Linked DNA regions of Homo sapiens: region 2 is linked to region 1. The links come from fine-mapping of genetic effects on gene expression. A gene starts in region 1. The other region holds a variant in brackets. All regions are shown on one strand. Distances are from middle to middle.

The links.
Region 2: its variant is fine-mapped to the expression of FAM217A in testis (GTEx, PIP above 0.99).

What each region holds. Positions count from the first base shown.
Region 1 is chr6:4,077,775-4,080,689 of GRCh38, forward strand. It overlaps FAM217A (family with sequence similarity 217 member A), which reads right to left and starts at 1,363. Exons shown (of 7, transcript NM_173563.3): 1 at 1,078-1,363. It also overlaps the pseudogene TEX56P.
Region 2 is chr6:3,784,542-3,787,456 of GRCh38, forward strand. It overlaps LOC124901244 (a long non-coding RNA gene), which reads right to left. Exons shown (of 2, transcript XR_007059412.1): 2 at 2,418-2,915. Among named protein-coding and RNA genes, the nearest start is that of PXDC1, 34 kb to the left of the region's middle. The variant T/C (reference allele first, on the strand shown) is at 1,242.

The DNA of each region.
Region 1 (2,915 bases):
GAAAACAGGGGCACAAAGTCTCCTTTTATTCATTCAAAACAATTGCTCCATTTGAAAGCAGGGTTGAACCCTTACAACTAGGCCAGGCAAGCACCCCGTGCATATTTCGGAGACAACAAAATGCCCCCAGGACCAAACAATATTTTCCGCACCAATCAATCAAGGTACCTAAAGGGTTTTAACCCACTGCCGTTTAAGGTAAAAGAATTAGAGAACTCTAAGGTAACAAGCAAAACAGTCACTGGATTAAGGTATGGCTATCTGGAAAGAATCACTTTTTTTTTTTTTTTTTTTTTTGAGACAGAGTCTCGCTCTGTTGCCCAGACTGGAGTGCAGTGGCGCGATCTCGGTTCACTGCAACCTCCGCCTCCCGGGTTCAAGCGATTCTCCTGCCTCAGCCTCCCGAGCAGCTGGGATTACAGGCGAGCACCACTACGCCCAGCTAATTTTTATATTTTTAGTAGAGATGGGGTTTCACCATGTTGGCCAGGCTGGTCTTGAACTCCTGACCTCGTGATCCACCTGCCTCAGTCTCCCAAAGTGCTGGGATTACAGGCGTGATCCACTGCACCCGGCCAAGAATCACAAATTAAAGCCACCGCAGTAATCGGTCTATCTGCTAATCGTTTACAATTGATTGTCTCCTACAGAAAAGTGTATGAAGAAATAGGAGATTTAGTTTAGGTAGGTTTTCAGCCAACACCGGTTATTGGTCCACGAGTGTGTGCATGCCAGACACTAGGTCTGAATGCAGGAGGAAGGCGGTTGCTGAGCAGGTGGCGCTGCCTGGGGCCACCGGGTGTGTGTCAAGAAGGAGGGCATCCAGCTCCTGGAAAAGGCCACCGCACCTGAAGGACGGCCCTGGGGACAAAGGACGCCTTGGGGACTGCGAGTTGGGGGACAGGAGCTTTAGGGGCCAGAGTGCTTGAAGGCGCGTGTCTCAAGGGAGCCGCAAGGCCCCCGTGAAGAGGAATCCCCTTTTCCTCCTGAGCTGTGGCCGGACTGGGTGGGGAGCCCAGTTCCAGGGGTAGCAGGAGGGGGCTGCGGGATTCCCCGGGGCCGGGGCTCTCAACCCACCGCGCGAAGGCCCACGTGTCCTCCCCGGCGTGCTCTCCCGGTGCGCCGCCCCGAGGCCCGAGCGCCTCCGCGTGCGTGGCTGACGGCTTGGAGGGCGCCCCCTCTGCCGCGGCCTTCCTGCAGCGGGGGGACAAAGAGGGCGGCGGGCGGCTGGCGGCCTTGAGCGCAGCCCGGTCGGCAGTGCAGGGCCTGCGAAGCCCGCGGGCCGGCGCAGGGGTGGGAGTCGGGCCCGGGGCCCAGAGAGACCTTCCGGGGCCGGGGCTGCGGCTCCGCGGGCTTCCCCACCGGCCGGGTCTCCCGGCAACTACCAGAGAGCGGGGGCGCCCGGGGAGGCCCGGCGTTCCACAAGGTCCACGCGTATTCGCGGGCCGCGGGGTCGCCGCCGGCCGCCCAGGCGCGGAGCCTCTCGGGGGTCACCCGGCCGCCGGGCCCGCGGGACGCACGGGGCCGCCAGGGGAGGACAACAAGCCTCAGGCCCTGTCCCTGCGCCCCGCCCGGCCTCCCCCGCGGGGCTGCGCAGCCCACTCGGCCATCCTGGCCTGAAGGGGCCGCCCCCGGCCTCGCGGGAAAGCCTGAGCCTCCCGGGCCTTCTCGGGCCTTCTCGGACTTTCCCCCAGGCGTCCTGGACCTTCTTCGGCCTTCCTGGGCCTCCTCGGGCTTCCTTGACCCTCCCCAGGCCTTCCCCGAGGCCTCCAGGCCCTTCCCTGGGCCTCTCCAGGCTGAGCTCTCCGCGACATGGCCAGTGGGCCTCTGGGACCCGGGGCCCGGCCCACCCGCCTCCACCCTCCATTCCCACCGCCTGCTCACATCAAGCCAGGAGCACCGCCCGGTACGTAGTCCTCCAGACTAAGCTACAATATATACGCATTGATACATGTGAAGTTATATCTATGCTTGTACAATATATTAACATAGAAGAAGAGGCATCCTTGTTGACACCAAGCTCATCCGGTCAGTTTCAGGTCCGTCGTCGGCCTTTCAATAGGAAAAACAAAAGATGATTTTTTTTCTTTTTTCATGTAGAGGATACATGTAAATCACACAGCCCAATTTTGTACCCCGAAATGCATATCTCCTATTACAGCTTCATGAAATAAGTGGAGGGGTGGGGGAAGAATCTCTCTCTATCTAGTTAGATATATCTGCATAGCTATCATCACCCCCACCTTTTGATATAGAGAAAAATTTAAAACAAAATTAATTATATATTTAGGTACAGCAAATGAATACTAAACATTTGGGGGGATGAGATCACGGCCATGTCCCTCTGAGAATCTCCCCATAAAAATGCACTTATATACCACATGTTGAAAACAATGTCAGGGGTTTCTCAGGTTCTTTGATCCCTGACTCCTGACTCTTTCCTCTGCATTTCCATTTTCTCCTCAGAAAGACCTTCCCTTTAAAGAAGCTCTTCCCACCTTCCACCTACCTTACTCTATTTCATGACACCCCGTTGTTATTTACTTCTTTGTACTCCTCATAATCTTGCTGTTTACTTGTTTGTTTTTGTATTGTCTGTCTCTCCCCAGTAGAATATCAAACTCCATGTGGGCCGGGGCCTTGTCTGTCTAGTTCATTTCTGTATCCCCAACCCTTTAAAACTGTGCTGGGCACATAGTAGAAGCACAGTGGTAGAAGCACAATCGATGTAAGTGAACGAACAAGATTTGTGCAGGCCTCATTCCTTGCAGCCTCCTTGGAGGTTTCCCTTCTAGGGCCCTCTCTTCCTTCGGCTGTTTTCCATACTGCTGCTCTAAAATACAGACCTGCTCAACTGCCTCCTAATGCCGGAAGGAGGAAACCCTAATTCTGCAGCCATCCCTTAGGTATCTGCT
Region 2 (2,915 bases), 290 kb before region 1:
TGTCACAAGCTCAGCGGCCGGCATGGGCAGCCCAGGTAGGTAGGCCTCCCTATCACAGGTGGATGTGAGTCAGAGGGTCACGTTCCGTCATACAGAGCGGTGCCCAGTGTTTTCCCGTGACAGTGGCACTGTTCGTTCACCACAGTCACCCTGTAACCGGCAGCGGTGCTGTTGACTTCGTCATGCCAAGGGATATCCAGTTCCGAGCACCTTCTGTTGCGTGTCTAAGACACTGTGGGAGCCTTTGGGAGGCAGGATGGTTTAAAATGGGGCACAGTTCCATATCACTTAGACAGAAGGATCAGGGTGGATTGTGACCTCCCAGTGATTGTCAGCCCTTCTGTCCTCCTTTCAAAGCTTTCAGACTTGGGGATACAGTTTGGCTCTGTGTCCTCACCCAAATCTCACCTCAAATTATAATCCCCATAATCCTCAAGGGTCAAGGGCGGGGCCAGGTGGAGGTGATTGAATCATGGGGGCGGTTTCCCCCATGTTGTTCTCGTGATGGTGAGTGAGCTCTCACGAGATCTGACGGGCTCGGAAGCGTCTGGCCTTTCCCCGCTTGCACTCACTCTGTCCTGCCGCCCGGTGAAGAAGGTACGTGCTTCTCCTTTGCCTTCTGCCATGACTGTCGGTTTCCTGAGGTCTCTCCAGCAATGCAGAACTGTGAGTCAACTAAACCTCTTTTCTTTATAAATTATCTGGTCTCGGTATTTCGTCACGGCAGTGTGAGAATGGACTAATACACTTGGGTTACAATTTTGGCAGACAAAATTGTGTTTTCTGTGTTTAGAATTACCAAAAAAAAGTAGGGAGATGGGGATGGTTTACATATAATCTACTCCTCTTAAAAGTTATTGGAGTGCAGTGGTGCAACCTCGGCTCACTGCAACATTCGTCTCCTGGGTTCAAGCAATCCTCCTGCTTCAGCCTCCCAAGTTGCTGGGATTACAGGCGCTCGCCACCACGCCCTACTAATTTTTGCATTTTTAGTAGAGAGAGGGTTTCATCGTGTTGGCCAGACTGGTCTGGAACTCATGACCTCAGGTGATCCACCCGCCTCGGCCTCCCAAAGTGCTGAGATTACAGGCGTGAGCCACTGTGCCCGGCCCTGGCCGACTGTCTTAAATTGTGCAATCTAGTGTCCATAAAACTCTAATTATTTTGCTGTCATTTAAATTTTTTTACTATTTAAAAATTTCACGTGTAATTACAGATGGTACGTTTGTTGAGAAAACATA[T/C]GTACCACAGTATTTGTAGTCAGAATTCAGAAATAAGCACTGTAATGTTTTAGTGTGTATCACATTTCACGTCATTTCTATGCAGAAATAGACCACATGCCACAGAGTGAACTTTGTCTCTAGCCTCAGCTTTCTCATCTCTAAAGTGGGGAGATCCTCTCCTGCTTCACGGAGTTGTTGTTAGGATGGAATGAGCTCGTATCAGTAAAGTGCTGACAGCACTGTATACTAAGTTTTGGAAATGGAATTTAACTGTTTTATAACCTGCTTACCAGGGTTTGGGGCCAGACATAAAATTCATGCACCCCACTTTTGTCACATTCCACTGGAGAGAGCTGAACCTCAAACTCACACCAGACTCCAAGAGACACAGAAAACATAGTGTCCTGAGCAGGCTGACCCAGCGTAAGGCCAGGACTGCAGAGAAAGGGAAGCAGGTTTTGGTGGAGAGCTGATCTCTGCCCCAGGGTATTTTACCATTTTTCTATGTAAGTGTTAATATTTTGCTTTTCGATATATGTGTGTTCTTTATAAATGAGGGACAGCAACCTTATGACTCATGTATATTGCAAAATTTTTCTTTGGTGTCACTTTTCACTTGCAAAAATTTTCTTTGGTGTCATTTTTCACTTTTAATTTTGTTCATGGAATTTCCTATTTTTATTTGTTGTTGTTGTTTTAGACAGAGTCTCTCTCTGTCACTCAGGCTGGAGTGCAGTGGTGTGATCTCGGCTCACTGCAACCTCGCCTCCCAGGTTCAAGTGATTCTCCTGCCTCAGCCTTCTCAGTAGTTGGGATGAGAGGCGTATGCCACCACACCCAGCTAATTTTTGTATTTTTAGTAGAGATGGGGTTTTACCATGTTGGCCAGGCTGGTCTTGAACTCCTGATCTCAAGTGATCCACCTGCCTTAGCCTCCCAAAGTGCTGAGATTACAGGCGTGAGCCACCGTACCCAACTGGAATTTCCTATTTTTTGAAAAAACTTTTTGTAATATATTCACACATGTGACAAAAATGCATTAGAAAATAAAATTGCTCAGAATTCCACAACTACAAATGGCAATTCTGTTGCCTTGACGTAGTTGTGTGTGTTCCTTACACACTTGGGTTTATACTGTATATTCTGTAGATAATTTTATATCCTGCTTTTTAATTTAATATTATATTGTGAGAATTTTCCCATGAAGCTGGAATTTATTTAAAAACATACTTTTATGACTGCTTGTCAAAGCAGATGTCGTCACTCCTGTCATCCTGGGCTTAAAGGTGGACTCTGCTTGGTTTCCTTAGGTTGAATTTCTAAAAGAGAAATTACTTGTATCAAGGACACACAGAGAATGAGAAACGTTTGAAGCGGTGGTTATCCTAAATACTCTAATTTGATTATTAAGCATCGTATGCACAAATCAAAATATCACATGTACCTCATCAATATGTACAACTATTATGTATCAGTTAAAAAATGAATACACCGAGTTCTACTCGTCATGGACATTCAGCAAGGTTAGTGAGTCAAGCCGTTGAGGAAGCCGCTTTAAGACTGTGTCTGTAGAGTAATGAGCCACCTTAAAAACCTGGTCAAGAAACCATGTACTTTGAAATCCATCAGTTTTAGAGTCAGAGATAAACCACTGTTTGAAATAAAGGGTTGTTTTCAAATGTATTATTTTTA